Homo sapiens: one gene and its partners. The protein of the gene in region 1 interacts with the protein of each later gene in a pairwise test. Each region holds a gene or a part of one and is shown in the gene's direction. Other genes may lie near its edges. The genes, in order: RSPH1, RELN, FRMD4B, NELL1, RARB, ABCA2 and KIF1A.

The links.
Region 2: the proteins of RSPH1 (region 1) and RELN interact in a two-hybrid assay, tested with the Homo sapiens proteins (one large-scale study listed by BioGRID and IntAct).
Region 3: the proteins of RSPH1 (region 1) and FRMD4B interact in a two-hybrid assay, tested with the Homo sapiens proteins (one large-scale study listed by BioGRID and IntAct).
Region 4: the proteins of RSPH1 (region 1) and NELL1 interact in a two-hybrid assay, tested with the Homo sapiens proteins (one large-scale study listed by BioGRID and IntAct).
Region 5: the proteins of RSPH1 (region 1) and RARB interact in a two-hybrid assay, tested with the Homo sapiens proteins (one large-scale study listed by BioGRID and IntAct).
Region 6: the proteins of RSPH1 (region 1) and ABCA2 interact in a two-hybrid assay, tested with the Homo sapiens proteins (one large-scale study listed by BioGRID and IntAct).
Region 7: the proteins of RSPH1 (region 1) and KIF1A interact in a two-hybrid assay, tested with the Homo sapiens proteins (one large-scale study listed by BioGRID and IntAct).

What each region holds. Positions count from the first base shown.
Region 1 is NC_000021.9:42,493,425-42,497,806, reverse strand, and holds the start of RSPH1 (radial spoke head 1 homolog), read left to right. Parts: upstream 1-1,582; 5' UTR 1,583-1,620; coding exon 1,621-1,674; coding exon of another isoform or gene 1,675-1,687; intron 1,688-4,382.
Region 2 is NC_000007.14:103,562,884-103,566,792, reverse strand, and holds part of RELN (reelin isoform a precursor), read left to right. Parts: intron 1-33; coding exon 34-192; intron 193-380; coding exon 381-569; intron 570-1,241; coding exon 1,242-1,515; intron 1,516-3,909. UniProt on the Homo sapiens protein: Extracellular matrix serine protease secreted by pioneer neurons that plays a role in layering of neurons in the cerebral cortex and cerebellum by coordinating cell positioning during neurodevelopment.
Region 3 is NC_000003.12:69,197,410-69,201,318, reverse strand, and holds part of FRMD4B (FERM domain-containing protein 4B), read left to right. Parts: exon of another isoform or gene 1-498; coding exon of another isoform or gene 499-507; intron 508-809; exon of another isoform or gene 810-948; intron 949-2,544; coding exon 2,545-2,621; intron 2,622-3,909. UniProt on the Homo sapiens protein: Member of GRP1 signaling complexes that are acutely recruited to plasma membrane ruffles in response to insulin receptor signaling.
Region 4 is NC_000011.10:20,668,077-20,672,568, forward strand, and holds the start of NELL1 (protein kinase C-binding protein NELL1 isoform 1 precursor), read left to right. Parts: upstream 1-1,509; 5' UTR 1,510-1,647; coding exon 1,648-1,702; intron 1,703-4,492. UniProt on the Homo sapiens protein: Plays a role in the control of cell growth and differentiation. Promotes osteoblast cell differentiation and terminal mineralization.
Region 5 is NC_000003.12:25,434,617-25,438,525, forward strand, and holds part of RARB (retinoic acid receptor beta), read left to right. Parts: intron 1-3,909. UniProt on the Homo sapiens protein: Receptor for retinoic acid. Retinoic acid receptors bind as heterodimers to their target response elements in response to their ligands, all-trans or 9-cis retinoic acid, and regulate gene expression in various biological processes.
Region 6 is NC_000009.12:137,025,222-137,029,802, reverse strand, and holds the start of ABCA2 (ATP-binding cassette sub-family A member 2), read left to right. Parts: upstream 1-1,565; 5' UTR 1,566-1,662; coding exon 1,663-1,728; intron 1,729-1,891; exon of another isoform or gene 1,892-2,339; intron 2,340-4,581. UniProt on the Homo sapiens protein: Probable lipid transporter that modulates cholesterol sequestration in the late endosome/lysosome by regulating the intracellular sphingolipid metabolism, in turn participates in cholesterol homeostasis.
Region 7 is NC_000002.12:240,722,412-240,726,320, reverse strand, and holds part of KIF1A (kinesin-like protein KIF1A), read left to right. Parts: intron 1-916; coding exon 917-1,050; intron 1,051-2,284; coding exon 2,285-2,346; intron 2,347-2,762; coding exon 2,763-2,908; intron 2,909-3,664; coding exon 3,665-3,865; intron 3,866-3,909.

The sequences.
Region 1 (4,382 bases):
ATTCTTAAAACAGTGCCCACACACAGTGTCAGAACTTAGTAAACACTGGTTACTGTCATTGTTAGGACAAATTTGAAAGCTAAATTTCTGACATTTTAAATGTAAAAAACGAGTATTTATTTGCATATACTTATGTTACCATTCTAGATTTCTAACATTTAAAATGCTTCTGGCATTTTATTATAAAAATAGGACATGCTTAATTGTAGTAACTGGGTAACTGCCAATATGTAGAGAAGAAAATAATAATCATCTGTTATCCCTAACTCCCCACTTTTCCCCATAAGAAAAGCTGTTAAATTTTGGTGTTTACAACATTTTTATCTTTGCATCTAAAAAACGACATAATTTTGGAATCTCGTGTGTTGTTGTAACTTGTGTATTTATTCAGTAAGTAATATATTTGGGCCTGATGATGGGTTATGGTTGTAACCTTTCATATTAGCATTGGGAAGAATCTCTAGGGGATGTGTGCTCTGGAAGATCAGCAGCTTATTCACCGCGTGGATTTGGCTTCTGGGATTCTCCCATCAAGACCAAATCCTATAGTTATTCAGTCACTCCTCCCCAGCTCCTGCAGCAACAACAAATAACACAGCTTTGCAGTCTGGGATGATGGCAGAGGAAATGGGAGATGTGAGGGGCCTTCGGCAGGCGGAGTGCGTCAGGTAAAGCAGATTTCCAAGCCTGCACGTGTACATGCGTGTGCGTCTGTGATTGTGTGGGTGTGTGACAGTGTAGGGGAGCCAGGAGCGAGAGGAGAGGACGGCGATCGTAGGGGACACCTGAGAGTCAGAGGCCCGAGGGGGCTGGGACTCATGTCGAGGTCGGGGAAGGATGTAAAACCCGGACGGACATCACTGTAGGCCGCACCTGCTGAGAGGCCAGAGCTGCCTCCTTGAGAGTGAAGTTGTTTACAGACAAGAGAAGAGATCTTGGCGGACACATCACAGCTAGCCGCGAATCCCGAAGGGTCAGCAGAGCCTAGAAAGGTAAGTGGGGGTGGGCAGCATCCCCGGAGGGGCCTGCGAGGCCTGGGGGCGGAAGGGAGCGGGCAGTGCCCGCACTGGGCAGGGGTGAAACCCTCTCGAGAGTTGGCCCGGACGCGTTTCCCGCGTCCTTCCTCTTGAGGGCCCAGTACCCAGGTGGCTCCTCGTTGTGGCGTCACAGAACAGCCGACAAAAGTGATGGATTTCAGGGGCCAGCGACGGCGAGGTCCAGGTCAGAGAGCCGGTGGGCAGCCAGGCACAGAACCCGCTCAGGCCCTGCCCAGTCCCCGCCCCCTCGCTTCCCGAGCAGTGATTGGCCGAAGCGGCCCCTCGTTGCTATGACGGCACCAGAGTGCTGCCACTGGCTCCACCTCGTCCCTTCCGCCCCGCCCCTCCGTATTCCCGGGCGGTGATTGGTCGAGGTGCCCTTCCCGTTGCTATGACAGTACGCAAAGGCTGCCAGTGGCTCCTCCCGCTTCGTCCGCGTCGCCTGTCCCCGCTCCCCATCTTCCGGGCTGGGAGGGAGGCGGGACCGGCCGCGTCTCCATGGCGACGCGGGACGCGGCGGTGGAGGCGGTTGCTACCCACCTGCTAGAGGCGCTGCGGCTGTGATCCAGGCTGGGGCGAGACCATGTCGGACCTGGGCTCGGAGGAGTTGGAGGAGGAGGGAGAGAATGATATTGGGGTGAGAGCTCCTGGTGAGAAAGGGCTTCCCAGGGTGCGCAGCGGCGGGGGAACCTCGAGGTTGGGTTTGGAGAGTGAGGAGGCGCAGAAACCAGAGGTCTGAGCCACAGCTCCCCAGGATCCCCGGCAGGGACGAAGGCCACGCCAGACACACCTGCGTGCGTCCTGGAAGTTGATGGTGAAAAGTGAAACGCTGTGACGTCTGGTTACCACATGCCGCCTCGTTCTTCCCCCACCCCCATCCTGCCTCCCATTAAAGGCAAAGATTTCCCAGCGGAAGGCTTTGGAAGTTTCCTCCTCCCTGTGTTAATTCCCATCGAGGCAGTTTTCTCGGATGAGCAGATCATCCCACGCTGCCATACTGCCCTTGAATAAGTCATTTCTGTAGCTGAGATTTGCTCCCCCGGCATTTAGATGCATGGAGGATAGTTGCTTCCTGGCAGCCTCCAAGAAATGCTGAGGAGGCCCTGGGCTCAGGAGAGGGTTCCTGAAGATATTACCTTATAGGCGTATCCTCACATGTGCTTTCTTCAGTCCCCATCTGAACTGACCCAGGTCTTTGGAGTTATTTCCTGAGTTAGGCAGCAGAGAGGAGAAAGAGGGCACATCCAGCCTGTGAGCTGGGTTCTGTGTGGGAATATTTCTATCACCCAGAGAGTAGTTCCTCCCTACTCCAGAGAGTGACCTCTCCATGGCTGACAGATAGGGAACCTCAGCCACTATGGTCTGCATGCACAGTACAGAGTTGAGGTACTTTCAGAATTAACTGAAAAATCTAGCGACTCTGCAGTGGTGCTGTCAGTGCCTGCCCAGACCTTTTTGCTAGCTCTGGGCACTCATCTCCCAGCTTCCGCCTGATTTGCTACTCAAGCTATCACCTCTGTGCGCTGGAACTACCTGCCCAGTATGGAGAGCCAGAAGTGCCTGAAATTCACATCCGGCCAGACAGCCAGTAGCTAGTGCAAGAAGCAGGACAAAGTCTGCAGTGCGATTGATGCCCCCAGAGTCCCTGTTGGATTAGGCCAAGTCTGGGACTTCACCTGCAAAGGCATCCTTCCTTAGCTGCCTGCCCTTTCATGTCTACTTCCCTGCCCTCTTTACTACTTTCTCCCAGGAGAGCACTTAAAAAAATCAGGCCAGGCGCGGTGGCTCACACCTGTAATCCCAGCACTTTGGGAGGCCGAGGTGGGCAGATTGCCTGAGCTCAGGAGTTTGAGACCAGCCTGGGCAACACGGTGAAACCCTGTCTCTACTAAAATACAAAAAATTAGCCGGGCATGGTGGCGGGCACCTGTAATCCCAGCTACTCGGGAGGCTGAGGCAGGAGAATGGCTTGAACCCGGGAGGCAGAGGTTGCAGTGAGCCGAGATCACGCCACTGCACTCCAGCCTGGGCAACAGAGCGACTCTGTCTCAAAAAAAAAAAAAAATCACTTGTTCAGGGTCTGTTTCTAGGTGAACCCAACCTGCAACACTTGACCAGCAAGATTTCTAGTTTGTCTCCTCAAATGGCCCCACTGATTTGTAACTTTTTAGTGCCTATAATTTTTAGGTTCAGATCACATTTGGGGTCATTTTAAAGGATTTCTGTCTTATTCAGCCACCCCAGCGGCTCAGTGTTGGGTGTATTGGGAAGCCTCTTGGATAGAAGGAGGGGACTTTTGTACATTTTGATGTAAACTAACCCTGAAACAAATCTGTGAGGTCGCAGATTTTTACCTTATATTCTAGGCAGGAATTAGTGGTCCAAACAGTGCTAGAAAAGGGCAAGAATTGCACAGACGTTTATTTCTGAAGTCCTCAATGTAGTGTGTCAGTACTTGTGTTATAATAAGTCTATATACATCCAATTCAATTTCTTAATTTTAATTTTTAATAAATTTTATTATGTATATTTAAGAAATACAGTGTGATGTTATGAGATACCCATGTTAAATCATTACTGGATGCTTTCAGCATTTTATTATTTACTATATTCACTCTATACCCATGTATTAGGTGCTAAGGAACATTTATTTTCTGAAGGATAGGAAAATTGCAAGCTTTGATCACATTTTTTATTTATTTACTTTTAAGATAGACACATAATTGAGCAGGCATGGTGGCTCATACCTGTAATTCCAGCACTTTGGGAGGCCAAGGATCGCTTGAGTCCAGGACTTTGAGACCAGCCAGGGCAATATAGTGAGACCTTGTCTCTACAAAAAAATTTTGAAATTAGCTGGGAATGGTGGCGCATGCCTATAGTCTCAGCTACTCAGGAGTCTGAGGTGGAAGGATCACTGGAGCCTGGGAGGCGGAGGTTGCAGTGAGCTGAGATTGTGCCACTGCACTCTAGCCTTGGCAACAGAGTGAGGCCCTGTCTCAAAAACAAAAACAAACCACAGATAGATACATAATTATTGCAGCATTGGGTCATGAGTGTTCGAACCTTAAGTCTCTTGCTAGGGGTCTTAAAAATAAGATAAACTTAATCAGCAAGGGAGCCCTGTGTACTCCTCAGTGCCCTCCAACCTGTCCCTTCCATCGGAAATTCCTTGCAGGGCAAAGGTCTCTTCAGGCCACACCCCGCCCCAGGGATCATTTGAGGGAAGAGTTGCTTCTCTCTGGGCATTTGCCTTTGAAATCCTGGATTACTGAAGGAAGCAAACGGGGAGGTATTTGTGTGGACTTGAACTGTTCTACCCGCATGTACTATTTCAAGCATGTT
Region 2 (3,909 bases), on another chromosome or scaffold:
TCCAAATAACTGGATTTATGTCTTTTAACTCAGGGCTTATTGTTCAGTATTCAAATGACAATGGGATACTCTGGCATTTGCTTCGAGAGTTGGACTTCATGTCCTTCCTGGAACCACAGATCATTTCCATTGACCTGCCACAGGACGCGAAGACACCTGCAACGGCATTTCGATGGTGGCAACCGCAACATGGTAAGTTACTGCTCACTCCAGCTTTCTGGTAGCTTTTAGGTCATGAAGTATCCATACCCACCTTGCACTGTGTGTTTCTTAATTTGCTGTCAATTTCTAGACAATTTGATTTAAAATCACAGTCATGAAGATATTCATATTGCTATGTAACAAAACTTCTCTAACCACCTTTATTCATCTGATTGCAGGGAAGCATTCAGCCCAGTGGGCTTTGGATGATGTTCTTATAGGAATGAATGACAGCTCTCAAACTGGATTTCAAGACAAATTTGATGGCTCTATAGATTTGCAAGCCAACTGGTATCGAATCCAAGGAGGTCAAGTTGATATTGACTGTCTCTCTATGGATACTGCTCTGATATTCACTGAAAACATAGGTATATATTGTCACCAGATAAAGGGAAAATATCTGATTAACTAGAGGACTAAATTAACTAAAAGTCAGGAGAAAACTTTCTAATGCAAAACCGTGTGCCTAACTACCCATGCTGAGGGTGGCTCTCAGTGAAAAAAAAGTTTTATTGTGCTAAGACAACTTGGTGATCCTAGTGACGGTTTTTGTTGGAACTGTCTTTCACAGAACATGAATGATATGAGTAAGGTTTCTTAGAAGAGCAAAAAAATCTATGAGAGGACATTCCTATGTTTCATAACTTGTAGACTTAAGACTCTATGTTTAAAAAAAGATAGATGTTTGAAGTGCTGGATATCCCAATTACCCTGATTTGATCATTACATATTGTATAAATGTATCAAAATATCACATGTAACCCAATATATGTATAACTGTAATATATCAATATTTTAAAGATAATATGTTAGCCCTTTCCAAGGTGGTAATGCTTTTCAAATTAGCAGCCTTCTATATTTCTAAATCTATGGTAACCAAATAGAAGCAGAAAATATAAGAAGAAAAGTCAAAGCACATAGGGGGCACTAAAGATAGGCCATGATTTTTGTTTGCTATTGAAGATGTTTATTATAAGCATAAACACCAAATAAGAAAATGGCACACATATATGCTACCATTACACATTTTTTTTTTTCAGGAAAACCTCGTTATGCTGAGACCTGGGATTTTCATGTGTCAGCATCTACCTTTTTGCAGTTTGAAATGAGCATGGGCTGTAGCAAGCCCTTCAGCAACTCCCACAGTGTACAGCTCCAGTATTCTCTGAACAATGGCAAGGACTGGCATCTTGTCACCGAAGAGTGTGTTCCTCCAACCATTGGCTGTCTGCATTACACGGAAAGTTCAATTTACACCTCGGAAAGATTCCAGAATTGGAAGCGGATCACTGTCTACCTTCCACTCTCCACCATGTGAGAATTGTCATTTGGCTACATGTCAGAACTTTGGGTGCCTGTCACTTAATTTGAAAATAATTGTGATTCGGCCTGGGGATTCTATTATTCTTTCATGATAATTATGCATGGAAGTGCCAGGAAGAAAAAAAAGTGCAAGGTGCTTTGGGTTGCAAGTTTTAAATGTGGCTAGAGAGCACCAAAAGTTTTATGAGGCTGAACTTTTCTGTTCTTTGCCAGCATAAAGGCTGCCCACCAGATTCCATTTTTAAACTGTTGTAAAAATAAGTCTCTGCCCATAAACCAGACTGATACTTATTCACACAAAACAGTATGTGAAATTACCACATATTGGAGAGTATCCTTAGTTTTTTTTCATCTCAGTACCACAGTATGAACAAAAGGTTGGTTCCTTTGGAATGCTCATATTGTTTTGCATCTGTCTTCCCCTCCCCAGCATTTCAGATCACATTCAAGAGTTGTACTGACTTACAGCAGGCTTCCACTTTTGTGGTGTAGGCATTTGGATCATTGGAGGATGTTTCTGGGAACTAACGGGTACTGTGGTGACTGGTTAGAGGCTGTACCTCCTGTGACTGCTCCCCCGAGATCCTTGCCTCTCCATTCCTGTGCTCTGTTCTGAATGGCAGGCTGCATTTCCCAGCCTCCTACATCTGTCAGACACTGCAGGAGAATGGAGGGGAGAGATAAGGGATAAATCAGGGTGTTCCTCCCCCCTCTTTCTGCCTCAAGTGCATCTTGGCCAACTTCTGTGGCTCTAGCTCCCCTGGGTGGCCCTCCAGGTGACCCTGGTCCCTGGGCACCAGCAACAACACTTCCTCCCTGTGTCCCTACAGTCTCAGACTCACAGTAAGTGGCTTCCTGACTTTGCTAAACTCCGGTTTCCTCACTGCTTCTACTGGCTTCTCTGCTCTGCCACTTGCTATACATCCAATTCCTTGCACTAATTTCTTTCTGTGTTAAGTGTTTATAGTGGTTTCTGTTTTCCTGGTTCAAACCTGATCCAGACATGTACAACCAAGAGGCAAGGGAAAATTCAGGAAGCCAAAACATTTTAGTATTTAGCCTAAAATAGTTTCCTATGACTGCTAAAGCTTTAAATAGTGCTTACTTGTTTGTAGCTCATTTATTCATTTTTTAAAAATTCAACAAACACTTATTGAATATCTACTGTGTTTTAAGCACTCTGGTACTACATGAATAAGCTGATGCCAGGATCCAAATGTGTTAAAGTCATGCATCACTTAACGATGGTGATACATCTGAGAAATGCATCGTTAGGCAATTCCATTGTTGTGTGAACATCATAGAGTGAACTTACATAAACCTTCATGGTTTAGCCTATTACACACCTATGCTGTATGATATAGCCTATTGCTCCTCAGCTACAAAGCTGTACAGCATATTGCTATACTAAATACTGTAAGCAATTGTAACATAATTCCAAGTATTTGTATATCTAAACATATCTAAACATAGGAAAGGTACAATAAAAATATGGTATAAAAGATTTTTAAATGGTACACTTGTATAGGGCACTTCCGATAAACAGAGCTTACAGGACTGGAAGTTGCTCTGGGTGAGTGGGTGAGTGAGTGGTGAGTGAATGTGAAGGCCTAGAATATTACTGTACACTACTATAGATTTCATAAACACTATGCACTTAGGCTCCACTAAATTTAAAAAAAGAATATTTTTCTTTCTTCAATAATAAATTTACCTTACTATAACTTTTCCATTATATAAACTTTTTTTAAAACTTTTGGACTCTTGTGATAACAGCTTAAAACACAAGCACATTGTACAGCTGTACAAAAATGTTTTCTTTCTATCGTTATTCTGTAAGCTTTTAATATTTTGAGAACTTTAACTTTGAAAACTTCTTTCTTAAAAACTTAGACACAAAAATACACATTATTAGCCTTGGCATACACAAGGTCAGAATCATCAAGATGTCAATTAGCAATAGGAATTTTTTTTCAGATCCATTATAATCTTATGAGACCATTGTCATAAATGCAGTCCATCATCGACAGAAACGTCATTATGCAGCACATCACTGTATTTAGGATAACAAACCTCTAAGCAGCTGTTTATGCTATAAGATGATACCAGAGGAAGTACTCAGAGATATTATTGAAACACAGGAGGGTACTACCTAACTCATTTGGGGAGAACTGGAGGGAGCTTTCTGAAGGAGTTGATGTCTCAGCTGACTCTGAGTAGGGCTTATCCAGGAGAAGAGGGGAGCAAAAGGGCATTTGTGCTGGCATAAGCCAGAACAAAATCCAGGAAGCCAGAAAAAGCATGGGTGGATGGGGAAATTCAAGGGCTCAGTGTTGCCAGAATATAATTGCAAGGTAAGAAGTAGGAGGTCTGGAGCCAGGAAAG
Region 3 (3,909 bases), on another chromosome or scaffold:
TTACTAATGATATTCAAGTTTCTATACAACGTACCCCCCATACCATCTGCCCCCAGAAGTAATCACTGAATTTTGTATCATTCCAATCCACATTTATATTATTATATGCACATATATGAAATCATACTTTGCACAAACTTTTAAGATTTCAGGCAGGGGAATGAACTGCTCTCTGCCTTTCATGCTTTAAACCCAGTCTTGTTCCCATAACCTTGTGCAAACCCAGTTACAATCCAGTTATTTCAAATTCTCTAAGCTGAAGTCCTTCGCCTTTTAAGTAGAGTTTTTGCTTGCAGGGAGCGTATTTGCTCTCAATGCAGGGACAGGCTGAATGGAGTCCAAAGCGCTAGGGTTTCACATTTGTAAGTGATAAGAGGGGGAGGTGGTGACTTTCAGAGATCATGTTTCAAGTCCAGCCCTGGTTTTTATGTGTGTGGGAATGGACGCAAAGGAAAACACAGCTGAGCTGCATTGTAACTCTTCCTGTAGAACCTGTTCATGTCCAGGGTGAGTAAACTAGGGTAGAAATGTCTTCCTAAAACAGCCTCCGGTGAAATTCGTCCTTGGATTCAAAGCAACTTACTTCCTAGGAAGTATCAGGCAAATCCCAACTGCCCTCCATTTTAGAAAGGTCTCTTTTCTGGGAAAATCTGCCACTGAGAACTTTGCCCTCCTCTCCCTGATGGGAGGAAGGAGTAGAATTAGGGAGGTGTCACTCAGGAGAGTTGCTGATGTCAGTAGTGTGTCAGCCGTGGGAGGCTCAGTTTGTGAAATTGAGTTACACCTAAGTGTCTTATGAAACTCAGTTCAGAACTCACCGGAGCTGCCGTCTGGGAGGGGGGAGGGCGGAAGAACCCTGAGGTTTTTCCTCACATTTCTGTCCCATTTTTGGAACCTCTGGATTTAAAGAAATGAAAACCTCAAGTTTGTGGAGATTTTAAGAAATGGGTATGTAACTTTATACTTTTATTAATTCTTCTGTGAACCTGAGTGAGTGTTATAGTTACAGACAGCTATGTGTGCGGACCCCGGAGGGCTGTGTTTTTAGGGTGTGCTGGTTTATTTCACTGTTCGGAATTGGGGGGTCCAGTCTGAACCCTTTTTTCCCATGCCTGCATACGTATAGAAACCTTCAGCTCATTTTGTTCCTTTACATGATGAGGTTTACATGTCTGTGAAAAGCCTGGGTTCCCGTATGTCAGGAAATGGTTTTGCTGATAGTGCATTGCAGAGAAGTGCTTATTGTATAGACTATTAAAAATAATCTTTTAAGATTCTTTGAACATAATTTTAAAATCCAGCCGAAGTCTAATAATATAATGAAACTCTCTGCTGTTATTTCCCTAATCAAGTCTGGGGGCAGAGAAGAGGAATTTGACCATGAAGTCCAAGTTGACAGGACAAACCAAGGCTCAGGATAGTACAATGTCTTATAAAGAGCTTAGGAAGCAGCCCAGAAAACATAGCAAGGCATCCTCAATTCTGTGAATGAGCTGCTTTCTATCAAATTATTTGGTTTTCAAATGCACATTGCTAGTAAAGTTTGTTCCTCCCAATCAAACTGACGGCACTGAGTGCCGCAATAGAGTATCAGTAGTGTGTATATCAGAGTGTACAGACACTGGGAGCTAGCTATGTTCAAAAACTGGAGGTTCTAGCTCAGAAACCAAGAAGAGGCTCTGGTGTTCCCTCCTACCCCTTCTCTGCCCCCAATTACTGGTGCTAGGTTTCTGTGGCATTTAGGGGAACTCTTCATAGGTAGGAAAGTGGTATCTCAGAGAATCACCCCTGCATGGGGGTTCCGTTTTACTTTCACTTTGTATTCTTTTGAAATTCAATCTCTGATGTTATTGAAATATCCCTTTGAATATCTTTCCATTTAACTATGAAATCAACATCTTTGAGAAGGCTGGTGCTTACTGGAATCTGTGCAGATTTCCTTATTATATAGTTGAGTCAGAGGAAAAATAGTGTACATGTTCTTCCACAGATGGTTGGTTTTATTGTTCAAGGAAGATTTATTGGTGATGTGAATCTTGTTTTTTTTGAGACGGAGTCTCGCTCTGTCGCCCAGGCTGGAGTGCAGTGGCGCGATCTGGGCTCACTGCAACCTCCGCCTCCCGGGTGCACGCCATTCTCCTGCCTCAGCCTCCCGAGTAGCTGGGACTACAGGCACCCACCAGCACGCCCGGCTAATTTTTTTTGTATTTTTAGTAGAGACAAGGTTTCACCGTGTTAGCGAGGATGGTCTCGATCTCCTGACCTCGTGATCCACCTGCCTCGGCCTCCCAAAGTGCTGTGATTACAGGCGTGAGCCACCGCGCCCGGCCGAGGTGAATCTTAATAGTTAAAGATTGCTGCCAGAAGAAGGAATAAAATGGTTTCAGGTCATAGTTGATTTGTAAAAAGGCTGAATCACATATTCATGTTTCATCGTATCAGTGTACCTTCTTGGAGCTTATAATTGTTTGATTATTAAGCTGATTTATAGAATTAGTAAAAATAAGCATAAATAATACTTCCTGGCTTTTCTGTTTTCTTTAGTTATTCCAATGGAAACAGCTGGAGAACTTATATTTCCGTGAGAAAAAATTTGCTGTTGAAGTTCATGATCCACGAAGGTGAGGATCAAAGACGTTTCTCTGTATGACACAGTTACTATACAAATAACGCTGCTATCAACATTTGTGTACAAGTTTTTATATGAACATATGTTTTCATTTCTCTTGGGTGTATACCTAGGAATGGAATTGCTGGGTCAAATGGTAACTATCTTTAACCCTCTGAGGAATGGCAAGGCTGCTTTTCAAAGTGCTGCACCATTTTACATCCCAAGCAGCAGTATATGTGGTTCCAATGCCGACACATCCTCACCGACACTTGTTATTTTTAGTTTTGTGTGCATGTATAGTTTATGCCATCCTAGTGGGTTGAAGTGGTACCTTCTTGTGGTTTTGATTTGCACTTCCCTCATGACTAATGATGGCTGAGCATCTTTTCATGTGCTGCTTAGCTATTCCTATATCTTTAGTAGAGAAATGTCTATTCAGATCTTTTGCTCATTTAAAATGTTGGTGTTCTTGGTCATTTAAAAAAAAAAAAAAAAGCCAAATTACCAACATGAACTGAAGTCAGGATGTGGGTTCTCAAATATCTTAGGAGAAATCCCGCCCCCCTCCGCCCGCCCCCAACTGCCAGACAGAGTCTTACTCTGTCACCCAGACTGCAGTGCAGTGGCGCAATCTTTGCTCACTGCAACCTACACCTCCCAGGTTCAGGTGATGCTCATGCCTCAACCTCCCAAGTAGCTGGGAGTACAGGCATGCACCACCACGCCAAGCTAATTTTGTATTTTTAGTAGAGACGGGCTTTCACCATGTTGGCCAGGCTGGTCTCAAACTCCTGACCTCAGGTGATCCGCCCGTCTCCGCCTCCCAAAGTGCTGAGCCATGGCACCCGGCCTTAAGAGAAATTCTTAATCAGTCCTTAGTGGGTACTTTTCAGTCCCGAGATGGTTATGGATGTTTAGAGGCCAGAGGGATGGGAGGAAATACCTGTGATAAAAAGGTGACCTGAAGAGATAAGCCAAATTCCTACAAAGAACATTAGTACCACGTCACACACACACAGTCTGTCTGCCTCTTGCCTGTTCTCTCTTTCTTTCTCTCTGTCTCTCTCTCTTTCACTTCCCCTCCCTCCCTTCTCCCCGCTCCCCCTCTCCCCTCTCCCTCCTCCTCTCTCCTCCCCCGTCCCCTTTCCTCTTTCCATCTGGTGTACAAGCAGCACTCTGGACAGTTTTGGACTTGCATATTTTCAGCCATTATCGTTAAGTGCATTCTCTGATAATGTCAGAGCCGGCCAAATCTACCTAGATCTGAAATGCTCTTTTACCTTGAATTAGGTGCTCAC
Region 4 (4,492 bases), on another chromosome or scaffold:
GCAGAGACCAGAACAGCATGCTAGTAAAGCCTTCTCTCTTAATAAGCTGCGCTGATTTGGTGAACTTCACTGGGGCTCCTGGGGTCAAAGTTGTGTAGGGGTTAAGGATATAGGAAGTGAAAGTGGGTGCAAGTGAGAAGGGCACGTTCTTATTAGTGAAGAGGATTCTGAAACGTTGGAATTGGTTTCCAGGAAACGAGGGACGGCTGTTCTGAGGTTTCCTTGGACTCCTCTGGGATCCCTGTTGTGAATATCAAAGGAGTACTGCTGGTGAGGGGGAGCGGGGGCTTCAGAGAGAGTGGGAAGACTGAGCAAGCTAAGTGGAGTTCATTTGGTATAAATCAGAGGCTGTCATTTCAGATTTCATGACTCTACATATCCAGTTATAAATAACGTTCCTAGGTGTTAGTAGGACAAATAGGAAGTGGGACAGAAGTCTTAAATTTGGGGGATCTTCATAGGGAAGGTCAGGTCCTGAAAGGGTCGCATAGAGGGGAGAGGACCCATTCTCTTCTTGCCGGCAAGTAGAAAACAAAGCCCAGCCCAGCTTTTCTCTCCAGAGAATGTTGTGGTGGGAGAGGGAAAAGAAGGTGGAGGTCCCGGAGGAATTGCACATGGGGCCAAAATGTGACTATGAAAGAAGAGTGGGCTTTTGATAATACCATTAAGAAAATCACGCAAGAAAGAAAAAAAGATGGTTAGGAATTACCCCTATGTGGCAGCATCTGCCCTGCAGAATGAGAAGGTTTGCAAATAGACTTCCCAAACCCCAACCACAGCTCGCTCCGCCTCGAGGACCCCTTTTCTGCACCCCCACCTCAGCGCCCTCTTCCTGCACCCACAAAGAGAGTACTCAGTCATAGGGGTTCAACAGGAGAGAGGAGACAGAAGGTACAGGCGGTGAGCAGGGACTCAGCCATCATCCCCCTCAGGTCCCTCCCCACCCAGTTGACAGAGCGAATCCCGAGTAATTGTTTTCCGAGGGGGTCCGTGCGCGCTCGGTGGCGCCGCCTCGGTCTGGGTTCCCCCGAGGAAAAATACCCACCCGCGAGGGCTCGGCGGCTTTTCGACTCGGCGGGGATGAACTGTGGCAACTTCGGCAGCCCCCACCGCGGTGCGGAAGTAAAGAGGGCAACATTGGCGACTGCGGCTCGGAGGGGCTGGAGCGCGTGAAGCCGTGGGGGCGCCGTGCGCCTCCCGCTCTCTCGTTTCGGCCGCAGGTCCTGGGACTCCGACTTCGGTGCTCCGGGTGATAGCGGCTGCGGCGCCTGCAGTCCAGATCCTCGCAGTTCTGCGGGCGAAGGAGGCGAACGGAATCGGCCCCCAGTGGGGAGCGCAACAAGCCACAGTAGCCAAACCCCGCGCTCCTGCCCGGGCTCCCAGACGAACGCAGCCGCAGCGGGGGGCCGGGCCCCGAGCCCCACGCCGCCGCCGCCGCGCCAGCGGTGGGGGGCGGGCTGGGGGCGGGGCGGCCGGGGCTGCCTTCCCGGGCGCATATGCGAGCGCAGCACCCGGCGCTGCCGAGCCACCTCCCCCGCCGCCCGCTAGCAAGTTTGGCGGCTCCAAGCCAGGCGCGCCTCAGGATCCAGGCTCATTTGCTTCCACCTAGCTTCGGTGCCCCCTGCTAGGCGGGGACCCTCGAGAGCGATGCCGATGGATTTGATTTTAGTTGTGTGGTTCTGTGTGTGCACTGCCAGGACAGGTAAGCATGACTGTGGCGGTTAGAGGGATCCGGGAAATGGGGGTGCCCACAGACCACGGCGGCGTGGGGAGACCTGGAGCCGAGCTTTGCGCTGGTCTGGGGAACGGCGGTAGCGTGGACCGGTTCCTGGGATCTCTTTGCCCTGCTCGGAGTGACAGGGTGAAAATAGGGACTCACGGGCTTGAAGATGTCCCCGTTGAGTGCCCCTTCTCAGGGGACCCGGCCTCAGGGGCGCAGGAGTGAGGGGCGCGGCCGAGTAGGCGCACCCTCTTGCTGCTAGTAACCGGCTTTCCGTCCCAGGGAGTCGAAACCCGCAGCAGGGCGGGCCCGCGTGCCCCGAGTTCCCGAACTTGTAAGGTGCTGTGGAAACCACTCTCGCCGACCCCCGCCAGGCTGGGAAGGGGTAGCTGCGGGAGTCGCACCCGCAGAGGGAGCGCTTCCGGCTGGCGGGCGCGGCCGGGGCCCGGGAGGGCGCGGTGCGGCGAGGGCAGAGAGCTGCGGGAGAACCCTGGGATCCCGCGATCTCCTCCTGTGCCTTCCTGACTACCCAGGAGAACTCCAGGAGTATTCTCCTCCGCCTGTCTTTGCTCCCAAGGGCTGGGCGAACAATTATCTGAGGGAAATAGAGCAGTGGAGACAATCTGGGGAAATTTTCTCAAGCTCAAACCAGTTTTCTCTTGCCATAATCGCAGGGTTCCGTGTGGGGAGGGGGGAGCAAGGATGACGCTTGATTGTCTGAAGTCCCCACTTCGTTCTGCCTCCGGAGACGCAGTTGTGAGGACTCTCAGCGCATCTTCTTCCTTCTGCTTCCACCGGCTCCCTTGCCCAAAAGTCCCCTGGGGTTCGGAGACTGGCTTGCAGCCGCCTTCTTCAAAGAGCTAGTAGTAGATGCGGGGAGACTGGGGTGAGGTGAGGTGGGGTGAGATGTAGGAAATTGGCAAAAATAGGGCCTGTCAACTGGGGGGAGTGTCGGAGGTTTGCAATCCTACCCAGCCATCCTCCGTACGCGCTGCACCCCAGAATCTGTGTGGTCATTCCCTTTCCCTTTATTCTCCCCCCTTTACCATCCTTATTTCCTTCTTTAGAGGCGTGGCCTTCTCTCTAGGCCAAAGAGCAAGTTCATCTGGAGAGGGCTAAGAAGGGGCGTCTGCACTTGGTTGGCTCAAAAGTTCCCTCCGCTTGCGCCCAGGCGCCCCTCTTTGGCAGTTAGCCCGCTGGAAGATCTAGCGTCTAGGAGCTTTCAGAGGGCCCTTCCCACTTCCCCAGGACTGAGCAGGCAGCGGCTTTCGTCTGGTTAAGAATGTTGAATATGGATTTCTCAAGGGACAAAAGAAACCTCCCATTCCGTTCCTTACCTCTATCCGAGCTTCCCAGGCTGCGGAGACGCCAAGGCTCAGTCTAGCTTAGAATAGTTGCTTCTTGAGTTCAGGCCCATCCGGATGGGTTAGTCTTTTAAAACCAGGACACGCTGAAGGAGTGCGCGCACCCCAGGAAGATCAGGACAGGCAAGACTAGTGCAGAGCGTGGGCTACTGGCTCTGAGCGCGAGAGTCTGGTGCTCGTGGACATCTTACAGAGGAACCGCAGACAGGAAGAAGCTAGGTAGGGAGGGGGCAACCCGTTAGTGAGTTCACATCCCTAAGTGCACATCACTACGGAATATGCCTAAATCCTTTGTTCTCATTACTCCTTTGAAAAGTCGCCAAAGTACCCTTATCACGGAATGGAACGTGTTTCAGGGTTCATTGCTTGTGGAAGGGGTCTTTAAGAACAGGTATTTTCCCTCTTTCCACTTCCAATCCCCTTTAAATCTTGTAAAAATTTCGTTGTAGGGGAAGATTCATTCATGTCTTTACTCATTCAACAAACGATGTCTTGCTGGGTGCCAGGATTTCTTATGCAAAGAGGAAATGACAGTCCTTGACTTCTAGGAACTTAAAGCTCAGCTGGGAATCTAGATAGAAACTGGCAGGCATTTTAATTTTACAGATTGATGGGGGGGGTGGTGGAGAGGTAGGAGTATAAGTTTGTATTAAGGAAATGTGGAGGAGAGACAGTTTGAATTAATTCTAGGGAGGAGTGGTGGTCAGGGATTTGAGAGATGTACCTTCAAGGCTTTCTAGGGAGTTTTCCAGGTGGACAAAGTGGGAAGGCATTCTTGGCAGAGGGAGCAGATTCAGCAAAGGCAGGGAAGCATGGAAGGATCTGACCCACTGGTTGTGGCTGTTGCCTAGGGAGCTTGGGTTCTCAATGTCACTTGGCACTATTTGAACACTAGAGGCCGCATATTTCTTCTACACACATTATCGGAAGAATCAGAGAGACGGGGGAATTACCTCTCAATTTGTACACTTAAAGTATCTTGTAGCTTGAGAGGGTATAAGCGGTAGCTTTCTGGAGGCAGCCCTCTGATTCTGTGCAGAAATCATTTCCACATCATCCATCCACCCTCTTCTTAGGTAACAAAGGCTGGCTTGTGATTATCAGCATCCAAACAGCTGCGTTGAAAGTTTCTTTGTCAAGTGGGACAATTGTTGTCTGGGCTGTTAACAGTCCTAGATGAAATAAACATGTGGTTCACTTAGTGAGCTGCTCAGATATCACCGGCTTTTAATGGAACTGAGTAGATGATATCAGGCACATTTTAATTAAAGCAAGACTGCAGTGCAGACACAGTTGCATATGAAAAGATCTAATGATAGGTGTCATGAGGAGCTGCTTAAATCTGCCTTGTTCAGAGAACTTGTTTTAGAGTGCAAAGTGGAGTCAAGACGGGAGGTGCCATTCTCCA
Region 5 (3,909 bases), on another chromosome or scaffold:
CTGCAACCTCCACCTCCCAGATTCAAGTGATTCTCCTGCCTCAGCCTCCTGAGTAGCTGGGACTACAGGCGTGTGCCACCACACCTGGCTAATTTTTGTATTTTTAGTAGAGATGGGGTTTCACTATGTTGGCCAGGATGGTCTCGATCTCCTGACCTCGTGATCTGCCCACCTCGGCCTCCCAAAGTGCTGAGATTACAGGCGTGAGCCACCGAGCCCGGCCTTGTATTTACTTTTGAAAGTACAAAGTTCCCATCCCCATCTGCATCAGATGACAACATTGCTAAAGCCATTTCATTTGCTACCAGCCCTGAAACCACTTAGCAGTTTTCCTCCCCTTTTTCCTTCTTCCCTTTCTCTTAAACCCAGATTTATTTTCATTTTATTTTATTCTTTGCCTTCCAAAGTATCTGATTTGAGATTTGGAGGAGGAGAAAAGTCAAACAGAAGGATTTTATTTCTTAAAATTCACAGATTCTCCTCAGTCCACTGCTGTCTTAAAGATAGCTTCTTATTTTTTAAGTTTCAGTGTTTGACAAAGAATCACTGTCCTAATTTGACCCATATTTAGTGGAATGTTTGCTATGTTGTTGTTGATAAATTACTATTCATCACAGAATAAAATTTTGTCAAGTCAAAAAAATAGCTAAATTCAAAATAATGTGCAGGTAAAAGAACAAATAAGATGAGTGCATCGGTTAACTAGGGAGAGAAGATCTGGATCACATCCCAATTTTTTTCCCATTTCCAGAGCAAATGAAGACCTCATGTAATAAATTTGTCTTCTCAAAAATATTAAAGCTTTCAACGGCTACAGTACCTTTGTCATGTCATCAAAGTCCATAATTATAAAAAGGCCGATGATCTGAAGGCCATTTCAGCTTCAAAAGATTTTTTTAGGGGCTGGTCTATTGGAAAGCTTGGGGGTTTAATTAACTAAAATGGAAATGGAGGCAGCGAAATTCAGTTCCTGATGTTTTAATTTAGCTCAGTACTGCCATGTGTTATTGAAGAGAATTCTTAAAGGCAAACATAATTATTTCATTATGGTCCTCAGAATGCTTTCATTGGCTTTAATGACAAGAAGCTGTATAAAAAGGCATATATTTTAATTAGTCCTTTTTATATTTACATCAGATAAACAACAAATAATTGATGAAAAACAAGTCTTTGGAATGGATGATTTCACATAGTGCACTGGTTACAGTTTAATGATGAAACATTTCTCTGTTGCTTTGCATTTTAATTATATATACATTATATTACAGTAGTCGTGCCATGGAGCTACTAAAATACCGTTGTTGCCATTTTATTACAAAAAAAATCACGATTAATGCCTAGAAATTGAAAGCTGAAAAATGTAGCTAGACACATCTCCAAGGAAGTAAATTACCGGTTCCATTAATTTTACTACATTTGTTAGAACTCATTTTGATCACTTTTATCTTTTACGCTTCATCTTTTTGGATTAAGATCGTCAGGGGTTTCATATGCTTTTTTATGGCCACATCTTCTCCTGAGCACCTTTCTTTCGCTCTTGCTGCCTGTTTTGAGGATTTGCATGTGAAAGTGCCTTGCCAAATGTGCACTGGAAATTCAGAGAGCTTTTTTTCCATGCTATCGGCTTGCTTTACCTTTGATTTTATATGAAAACCCATTTCACATGATTCATCCGTTTTGGTGTACAGAACACTAATTGTTATTATTGATTTTAAATTCCGTGACCATTACAAGTAACCCAGATGACTGGCAGATAAAGGGTAATAATCCATGGAGTTCTGGAACTGTTTCATGTTTGTCTGGAGTACTTTATGTGATCAATATTAACTGCCCCATTGAAACTAACTGCTGTATCAAATAACAGTCAATCAAATGAATGTGCTTAGAGATTATTTATTGAAAGCTTTAATTGTTCACTGGGGCCCTCCTTATCAGGGGAAACAATACAAACTAGAGGTAGGATGAACAGGTTTGGATTTGCAGGGAAAGTTGGGGGATGCAGATGAACAAGGCATCTCTCTGCTTCTCGGGCAAGAGTTTCCAGAAACCCATGTTGGGCTTATAGTTCAGGCAGAAGTTGTGAATACTCTTCCAGAGCTTATCCTATCACCTGTACCTCAAAGGCTTTCTAGAGAAGGGGGTATAATAATTTTCTTGCACTCAGCAGAAGCTGTGAAAAGTTCTCCCTTTCCAAGAGTTTTACTGCTGCTTCTCCCTGGTCCTCTCAGAATTACCCTTCCATGCATCTCTCCACCTCTGCTTCCCCATCATGGCCTGATGGTCCAAGATAATGCAAGTAGCCTGCCTTGACACAGGATCGGTTTCTACAGCTATGAAATGGGAATAATAGTGTCTACATTGCAGGATCTGTAGAAGGATTAGAGATCATGTAAATTAAGATTCTATTCTTGTCTTGAAAACATATGGAAGTCACCAGGTAGGCCTTCTGCCCTGATTTTGGCATGACACCTGTGGCTTACGTGCCTTTGCTAAAAGCAAACTTTTTTTTTTTTTTTTTGGTCATATCTAAATTAGGTATCTCTTTTCTTTGGTGAAATGATCCCTCGGTCTATAGCTCATAACCTAGGTGGCAGTCCTTTCTGTTTGTCAGGTAGCACTGTGCCCTGATTCAGGGGCATCCATTTACCAGATCCCCAGATTTCTTGCAAATGATTGACTTTTACAAGTGAGCATTGTCACCTTCAAAGTTGTCACAATACACTTAGCCCAAAGATGCTGTCGTGGCACAGTACATTTTTATTGCTCATTGATGGATTAGTTTTTGCAACGTGCCATTCAGCAAATGGCTCTTGGGTGTCTGCCATGTGCCAGGCTCCTTGATATGATCTGTGGGGGACACCAAGATGAATCAGACACTGTCCCTTCTCCCTCTGAACTCATGATATAATGGGAAGAACTTGTGACACAAGTCGTTGTCACATAACCCCCTTATAACAAACCCAAAAATCTCCCCATGTCTTTGAACCTAAGATTGATAATGGAAAGAACTAAGAACTGCCAAGAACCACAGCTGGTTTATATGGTGGGTGATCAAGTGGATTATACATTTTTGTCACAGTGGAGCGGGCGTGAAGTTTTTCTGTGTGCAGGCCTCATAGATCATCTCTAAAAGTAGTTCACAAAGGAGTTCTAAACCTATCTTACACAGTGGAATAAGTGCACACCTTCCAAACTAGCTTCTTGAAGACTTTCATGTGGATGTTTCTGGAGCGTGTTAAGTAATCATGTTCCTTGGGGATGGGTTTGATTCTATTGGATTTTTAAAAATCACTTATTTCTCTATGATTTCTGTGACTTATTCCTGTGTAACAAACCATCCCAAAACTTCCTGGTCTAACAATTTATTATGACATTATTCTGTGGATGGGCTGGGCTCCGCTGGGCAGACCCTCTGCTCCGCATGCTGTCAGCTGGGGCTGAATCATCCATGGCTAAATTGGGCTGGCAATCCAAAAAGTCTCACTCTCATGGCTGGTGGTGGATGTTGGTTGTCGGTGAGAGCTCTAGGGGATCTGCATGTGACTTGTGCATGTCACAGCATGGCAGCAGTATTCCGAGAGAGAGTGTTTCGAGAGTGAACCTTCCAGGAAGGAGGCAGCAGAGGCTCCCAGTCCTCTTAAAACCTAGACCCAGAGAGTGGTATACAGTCGCTTTCACTATATTCTGCTGGTGAAGCAGACACAGGGCCAGCCCAGATTCAATAACTACCTTTCAGTTTGGGAGAGAAAGGCAAAGAATGTCCACCATAACAATCGTAGCGTATATGCACTATAACAAGAAAGAAAGTATTGTCTTCTGAAAATGATTAAATTAAAGAACAGTTGTGGGGCTTTTAGTTTTTTGGTTGGTTCCATGTTTAATGAAATGCTACTCTAATGACAACATACA
Region 6 (4,581 bases), on another chromosome or scaffold:
AGCTACTTGGGATACTGAGGTGAGAGGATGGCTTGAGCCCAGGAGGTTGAAGCTTCAGTGAGCCGTGATCACACCACAGCACTCCAGCCTGGGCAACAGAATGAGACCCTGTCTCAAAACAAAAACCAAAACAGGCCAAGGTTGGGGAAGAGTAGGGAACGGACGTCAGAGGCCTGGCCAGGCTGAAATCGCCCATCTCCCAGGCCCGCAGGCTGGAGGGTGTCTGGGGTGACAGGGTCTGACCTGTGCCTTGTAGCTCCCTCTGGTGGCCAGTGCTGGGGAGGCACTGGGGATGCGGCTGCAGCCAGGGAGCCCCTGTAGTGGACGGTGGAGAGTGGGGCGAGGAGGAGAGAGGCCAACCCACGGGTGGTGCTGACCAGGGCCCCAACAGGCTAAGCCCCCGGGGCTGGGGCACAGGGCTTGTCCCTACCCCAGGTAGGGGTGGGCAGGTTGAGGGCAGGAAGCCCCCCTCACCCATGGCTGTGGCTTGTGGGAAAGACCTGCTGGTAGCTTCCTGCCCTGACCCAGCCCTGTGGACTGAGCAGAGAAAAGCAAGTGCCTTGAGGCTGCGGGCTGGGGTGGGAAGCTGATCCCTCACTCACTAGCCCAGGGTCACCTTCCTGCTGCAAAGGAGCTGGGAGGAGTGGGGAGCTGTGGCCTCGGAGGTCTTCATTCACTTGAGGATGCGCCTTCTATGTGCGCCCTGACACTGGACACCACACAGCGCTACTCCACCCCATTCACAGGGGGGAAACTGAGTCTGGGAAGCGCCGTCAGAGCCACCCATGGGGTCAGCCTGTCCTCTGTCGCTCTCTACAGGCCACGCGGAGGAACTGCCCCACCTCCCGGGGCGCCCCAGCAGGTGCCAAGCCACAGCCGCAGAACCGCCTGATCCCGAACTCCCTGTGCAGAGACCAGACTCGCCCGAATATGGGGAGAAAAACGAGCCGCGTGCAGCAGGGGCCGCCTCGGTCCCCTGCCTGCTCCGCTCACGGCGAGCGTTCCTGGGGCCTCGAGTTTCCCCCCTTCCGCTGGCTGCTCGGAATCGCGGGACGGACCCACCTGGCCGCCCTGCCTCCCTTCCAGGTGGGCACCACCTGGACTCCAAGTGCTGGTTTACAAAGCACACAGGAGACCCTTACGGGGGTGAGCTGGCCCCTCGCCAGCGTCCGCTCGGCGCGCCCCGGGGACAGTGAAGGCTTGGGGCGCCTCTGCAGAGTCGCCAGCGCGGTGGGCGCAGCCGGATGCCTCTGGGAGAAGAGCGCAGCGCCCGAGGGTCCCCCGGCCTACGAAGGCTAAGCCGGGGTCTCGGATTCGATGTGGGCGCGTCGCGTGACGCCCGGCGAGGGGCGGCCCGGAGGCTTCCCGGCGGCGGCGCGCGCAGGGTCTCGGGCCCGGGTCGGTCCCGGGCGCGGCGCGGGCGGCGGGCGCCTCCTGGCGGGCGCGGACGGAGCGCGGCGCCTTTAAGCGGGGGCGGGCGGGGCGCGGGCAGAGTCGCTGTCGCCGCGGCCGCCGGGGCGGAGCCAGCGCGGATCGGGTCCCGGACGCCCGAGCGCCCCGCCCCCGCGCGGGCGATGCCCAGCGGCGCGGCGGGCTGCGGGGCCCGGCGGGGCGCGCAGAGGAGCGGGCCGCGGCGCTGAGGCGGCGGAGCGTGGCCCCGCCATGGGCTTCCTGCACCAGCTGCAGCTGCTGCTCTGGAAGAACGTGACGCTCAAACGCCGGAGCCCGGTGAGCCCACCCCACGCGCCCGCCCTCAGCCCGAGGCCGCGCGCACCGCGGCCAGAGGCGCGCTCCCCGCGCGCACGTGCGGACGGCCGGGCGCGCGCAGACCCCGGCGGGCGCTGGGGGCGGCGCGGGCCCGAGCCCCCTCCCCGCCGGGCCCTGCCCTCGCCTGCCGGCGCTGCGGCCTCCGGGGAGGTGGCTCGGTCGTGTCCAGTCCGGTCCCGCGTCCGCTGACATCGCGGTGCTCGGCTGAGTCACGGCACCCGCGCCCTCTGCAGCGCGCTCGCTGGGGCCGCTGTGGGCGGGGGGCAAGCGGCGCTCAGGACTCTGGCTCGAGGGAGGCCCTGGTTCCCAGGACAGAAGGCAGGCCTGGGGGGCTCCATTCAGCTGCGAGGCTCCATGGTCCTTGGGCCCAGCCTCCCTGGGGTCCCGGAGGAGACCCTGTCCCTTCCCTCCGTCCACCCCTCCCCTGCCCTTGGGCCGCGGCCTGCCATAGAGGTTGGTCCCAGGCATCTCTCCGCCTCCCCTCCTGGCACATCCGTGACCCTTGCTCATGCTCTCGCCACTGGGAATGTCCTTGTGCCAGCCTTGGCCAGCCTGAATCTCTGCACCCATTTGTCCTTTGGGGTCAGTTCTCCCCGAGCCTGATCCACTCTGTTGCCTCCTGGTCCCCCCACCTGCTCTGGGGGCTGGGTCTACTGTTTGGAGCTGTGAACCCCGGCTTTCCCAGCACTGCCTGGGCAGCCAGTGGACCTGAGGGTGCAGGACACATGGCTGTCAGGGACAGAAGTCCTTCGTGGAGCGAGGGGCTTGGGGATATGGGTGTCCTGCCATACCCCCAGCTGGCCAGCTTGGCTCCAGCCTGGGAAGGGAAGGGACACCTCCCAGGCCACAGGCCTGGACCAGCTTAGGTTTCTGAAGGCCCTTGGGATTGTCCAGGCCAGGGCTCAGAGCAGGTGGGGGCCTAAGGCAGACATCCTCTTGCCCAGCCAGGGCCCGGGCGGGACCCCTTGGGCTGCACCAGTCCGTGCCTGTTTATCTTTCAACATGCACTGCAGGAAACCCAGGCTGCAGTCAGCTGGGGTGGCCATCATCACCATGGCTGGCAGAATTCCCCTGGGCACCTGGCCTTGGCGGGGAGCCTGGGTTAGGTACATGCCCTGGCCAGGCACCTGGAGCTGGCTGAGTGGGGTCCCATGGATCAGGCCTGCAGCCCCTGGCATTGAGTCACTGGGGACAGCAGAGCAGGGCCAAGGGAACAGGGATGTGGCATGTGGCATGCATTAGTATTAGTCCCCGGGGGTGGTTGTCAGGAAGGTCCCCACTGGGCTTGGGAGCAGAGGCTGGAATGGTGGCCCCTGTTCCAGTGGGGACAATGCTCAGGGAAGGGAGTGTGGCCTATGAGGGCAGCTGGCAAGCAGGTGGGAGGTGTGCACTGTCCTGACCGCAAGAGTGACTCCCAGCTGCTGGTTTGGGCTGCCCCCCAGGACCTTTTTGGGTCCCCACCCTACAGGGCTCCCAGAGGCCCACTGGGCCACAGTGGAGGTCCTTAGCCCATGGCTGGAGCAGGTGGGGAACTGTTTCCCCCAGGGAGGCTGAGTCCTTGCCAGGCTTGTGATGTGGGGCTGGGGCTGGCTGGACACTGGGCACACTCCTGCTGGGTCCCCACTTTCCTGGGAAGGATCTTGGACATCAGAGCTGGACTCTTGGGGCCAAGCTTGGATGACAGAGGTTTGCCCTGTGTGCCATGCGCCCTGCTGGGGCAGGGGTGCACCCTGGGCAGAGCTCCACCCTGGGCAGAGCTCAGGGTCTGGAGGGTGGGTGCCAAGGACCTCTGTGCTGCTAGCAGGCTCCTCCAAGCTCTTTGCCTCAGTTTCCCTGTCTGTGAGTGTGGCCTATCTCCTCTTAGTTAGCTGGACTTGGGTCTACCCTTGGGCTACAGGCTGCTCTTGGTGCAGGGACAGGGTCACTGTCATGAAGTCACTGGGATGGCAGATGGCAGCGCCACCCTCGGGTCTCACCTGTTCTCCCCCCGACACAGTAGGCGGGAGCTACAGGGAGGGGTCATGCCCAGAGAAGGCATCTAGGCCTCCAGGCGATGTGAAGGCACTGGGCTGGTCTCGAGGGACGGAGGTTGGGCCACCTGGAGGCACCTGTGTGGGGCACCCAGGGCGTGCTAGACCTGTGCTGCCGCCTGTAACCAGATGCTGCTGTGGCGCCCGCCGCCTGCCAGCCAGGACTCTCCTCCTCCTCCCAGTAGCTCGTGCGAGGCCGTTGCTATAGCAATGGGGGAGGCAGCCGGGCCTGTTGCTGCAGTTACAGTGCCCATAGCAGGCCGGGTGTGGGCGGGGCTGGCGCCCCGTGCTGTGACCCCTGCCTCTGACATTGCCTCACTCCTGCAGCCACCCTCGCCCTGGTGCCTGTTGGTGCCCACAGTGCCTTGGCGAACCCTGGGCTCCGTCCTGGCTCAGGGAGCGGGTGGAGGCTGGCACGGGCTGGGGCGGGCATGGGACACCCACAGCATGATGTTCCTGGCCACAAAGCCCTATTGTCCAAGCACAGTAAACACAGCAGCCGCCCCCACCCCAGGGACCGGGGACTCGGCCCGGGCCACACAGCACACTGGGGGCTCTGAAGGGTTTTGGGATGGGGATGAGGACAAAGGATGCCTCCGAGCTGGGTGCTCGCCCTCGGGCTAGGGAGGGCAGGGCCCCTCTGTCCTGTGGGTCTCAGAGAGGGCTGGTCTGCCGAGGGCTCTCTGGAGGGTAGCTGGCTCAAGCTCCTCCTCCTCCCTGAGCTGGGGGCTGGGACACAAGAACCGGTAAAGTCCTTGGTTTTCAGGTGAAGTGAGCAAAGCAC
Region 7 (3,909 bases), on another chromosome or scaffold:
CTTTTAATGGCAGTTAACTCACTCTACCATACTTAGTGTGTGGGTGTTGTCCTTGGGATGCAAGATGGCTGCAGCACCACCAGACATTGTGTCTGCATTCCGGGCAGCACAAAAACAGAAGTGTTCCATCCCCACAGCACCCCCAGAGTCTGCAGTACATAGGCCGTGGCCAGACCTGGGCTGTGGCCTCCCTTCCAAGTGCAAGAGGTGACTGGAAGTGTGGGCGTTTCTTGCTGGTCATAGTAGTGAGGGAGAGGGAGGGTGGGGAGCAGTGGGCAGGGGCATCTGCAAGCACATCCCCTCTCCTTAGTTACAGCCGAATTATTCCAGCTTCACATGGGGATGGTGTGACCATCTCACCAGATGGTGGTGAGGTTGCCGTGAGGAGGCGCTGGCAGAGCTCTTCCCAGCGAGTGCTTGGGACTCTTCAGCCATGCACAGCAGCTGCCCCCACTTCAGGAAGACAAAGGGGCCAGCTGTTCAGCAGTTAGCGTGTCATCCACCAGGAAGTCATTTTCTGTGGTGTTTGGGTTAAAATGTGCACATTCAAACAAGACCTGGTTTGATCCTCACAGACATTCCAGGGTCGGGGAGGGGTCACCCCAATTTTATGGTGAGGCAGCTGAGGCCCGAGCAGTGAGCCTATGTCTGGGACCCTCGGGGTCCCCACACATGGAGACCAGTCCCTCAGGCAGCCCAGGGGTGGACAGAGCTGTGGCTACCTGTCCCCAGTGGGGTTTTCTCGAGGGCAGGAGCAGAGACTTTCTCCTGCCTGCGTCCAGGCCACACCTGAGGCCCTGGGAAGGCCCTGGGGCTGCCTGTCGGTGCTGGGCATTGTGCCCCCAGGAGAAGGCTGGAAGGGCACCTGGGCACTCGGGGTGTCCTTGTGCCTGAGTCCTGCTCCCGCCTATCTCAGATGGAGAACTGCACCCAGCCGGCTGTTGTCACCAAGGACTTCTGCATGGTCTTCTATTCCCGTGATGCCAAGCTGCCAGCCTCGCGCTCCATCCGCAACCTCTTTGGCAGTGGGAGCCTTCGGGCCTCAGAGAGGTAAGCTCCCAGGGGTGAGGACCACATGGACTCCCACCCTGGTCTCGGTGCGGGCCAGGCAGGGCTCTGCCTGGCAGCGGTCCTTGGGCCACCCGGCAGCTCACCCTGTGCGAGGCCCAGCCACACTCCTGGCTGGCTCCCTGCGCTCAGTCCCCTCCTGCTCACCCTAGATGAAGACTCTGTGGAGGCCATGGTTCCTGCAGGGGACACTGACACCACTATGAGGGACTTGAGGGCCAGCCTGCAGCGGATGGGAGGAGGGGCAGGCCCAGGGTGCCCACCTGGGGCCTCCTGTGGGTGATCCTGGGGCCACACCGTTCCCCCCCCCCCCCCCCCGCCGCCGGTGACCTTCTTCCCTGAGGACCACGGAACCTGTGCCATGGGACTGACTGCCCACAAGGCACTGAAGGAGGAGCTGGATAAGTGGGCGGTGGCTGGAAGGGGGCTCTGGACACAGCTTCCCACAGGACCTGCTGGGTGGCTCTTCTTGGAGGCTGTCAGCACCTTGGGGAGCCACACACCGAACACCAGGACCAGCCGTGCTTGCGTGCTGAACACGCTCCTGATTCTTGGGGGTGGGGGAGAATGAGCCGGAATGTCAGGGCCCTGACAGCAGGGCTGCCGAGGCTACCGGGCACCCGTGGCCACCTTCAGTGGGTCTCCCTGTGGTCTGCCACATGGACCTGGTGTCCAGGTTCACACTGGGCACAGCTGGGAGGAAAGAGCTTGGGGGTCAGGATCCAGTGTCCTTGAGGGCTGGCTGTGGTCATTCTGGAGGTCACTCAGTAATTGTGGGATGCCACCGACCTGTCTGTGGGAGGGTGGCCGAGGTGCTCTCAGAATCTGTCCGGGGCACAGTGGGGCTGCTCTGTGGGGTATGGGGCCTGAGGGGCTCTCGACGCCGTGGAGGGACTGGAGATGCCAGATGCTGTGCTCATGTTGCCTGTACCCCACTTGGGCTGGGACAAAGTGGAGGCTGCTGTGGGGGCCTGGCCTCACGTCACAGCCCCATGGGCACCTGAGCAAGACCAGCCAATGCATCTTTTCTCTGGGGGCCGGAGGGAGTCTGGGATGAGGACTCTGAACAGGGGCTGTAGCTCAGGGACCTCAACACCCCATCACCCCAGCCAGGCTGACTGTGCGTTTGATAGTGGGGCAAGTCAGCAGCCAGGCTGGCTGTGTGTCCCTGTTGCGGGGCCTGGTGACTGCATGTCACTCCTTCTACTCCCCACAGTAACCGTGTGACTGGTGTGTACGAGCTCAGCCTGTGCCACGTGGCTGACGCGGGCAGCCCAGGTAGGTATCTGCCCTGCTCTCACTGGGTGGGTTCCTGGCCTGCTCAACCTCTGCCCACTTGGGGTGACCACAGCGAAGCTGCCATTTGCAGGGGGATCCCTCACAGAACCCAAGCACTCACCTTGTGGCTTCTGGAGTTGTTCTGAGATGGGAGGAGAGCGAGGGAGGAGAGTCAGGCCTGCTGGCTTCCTTGGGTTCCCAGGGCACAGCCGAGATGGCCATGGGACGCCGGGCTGGATAACTTCCTATGGAAGAGGCCTACATGGCTCTTTGGGCCCCAGGGTGGACCAAGGACCAGGGGAAGCCCATCTCCACTCCAGAGGGGAGACAGCTTCACAGATGGGCGGACCTCTAGGATGGGTGGGAGGAGCAGCCACCCATCAGGTAGGGGTGGAATGTCCACGTGCCCCATGCAGGGATGCAGCGCCGGCGCCGACGAGTCCTGGACACATCTGTGGCCTATGTCCGGGGCGAGGAGAACCTGGCAGGCTGGAGGCCCCGGAGTGACAGTCTCATTCTGGACCACCAGTGGGAGCTGGAGAAGCTGAGCCTCCTGCAGGAGGTGAGGCAGCCTCAGAGGATGAGGCCCGCACGGTGGTGTCCATGTGGCTTTGTGTGCAGAGCAAAAGCTGGAGAGGGCCCAGGGCCTGGTGCCTACTGGGGGGCAGCACAGCTGCTTGGGAGTCACAGCCACCTGCAGGAGGAGCATGTGATGCTCCAGTGTGCACTGCGGGGCTGCGTGGTGTATGACAGAAACATGGCCAGTGTAGCACAGAGGCATGCTCTGGAATTAGCCGAGGAAGACTATCGGGCATATAGACAGAGGCCAGAAAGGGACCCGGAAGGAGAGTCGCGGGGCTGGGCTGCCCTCTGCGGCTTTGATCAGGGAAACCAACATGCAGCATCTAGGCACTGCCTCGGGCCGAGTGTGTGTGTGACACGTGACGCGTGACGTGTGAGATGCGTGAGGCCAGGGCTCTGCCCACCCCTCGGCCCTCTCCTGAGGCCTCCAGCACTGCAAGGCAGCACAGCCCTGCCCCAGAACCTGGCGCGTGAGATGGATGTGTCTGAGAGGAGCAGCTTGCTTGCTGCCCATGAAGGTGGCAGGGCTGGGGTGGGGGCTGAGGGCTGTCAGCCCCGGGGCGCCAGGGTCTGTTCCCTCATTTCACAGCTGAGGGCTGTCAGTCTTCAGTCTTAGCCCAGGGGAGGGTGGGCTCTCCGGGGTCTGCCCAGAGGGTCATGCTGCTGCTGAGGCTGAGCACAACTCCGGAGGTCACCCCTGAGGTGCAGCAGGTAAGGCCTTGTGTCCTGTCTGAAGGTGGAGAAGACTAGGCACTACCTGCTCCTGCGGGAGAAGCTGGAGACCGCCCAGCGGCCTGTCCCGGAGGCACTGTCCCCGGCCTTCAGCGAGGACTCTGAGTCCCATGGCTCCTCCAGCGCCTCCTCCCCGCTCTCGGCTGAGGGCCGCCCATCACCCCTGGAGGCTCCCAACGAGAGGCAGCGGGAGCTGGCCGTCAAGGTGGGTCCAGCTGGTGGGCAGTACAGCCGTAGCCCCAGGCCCTC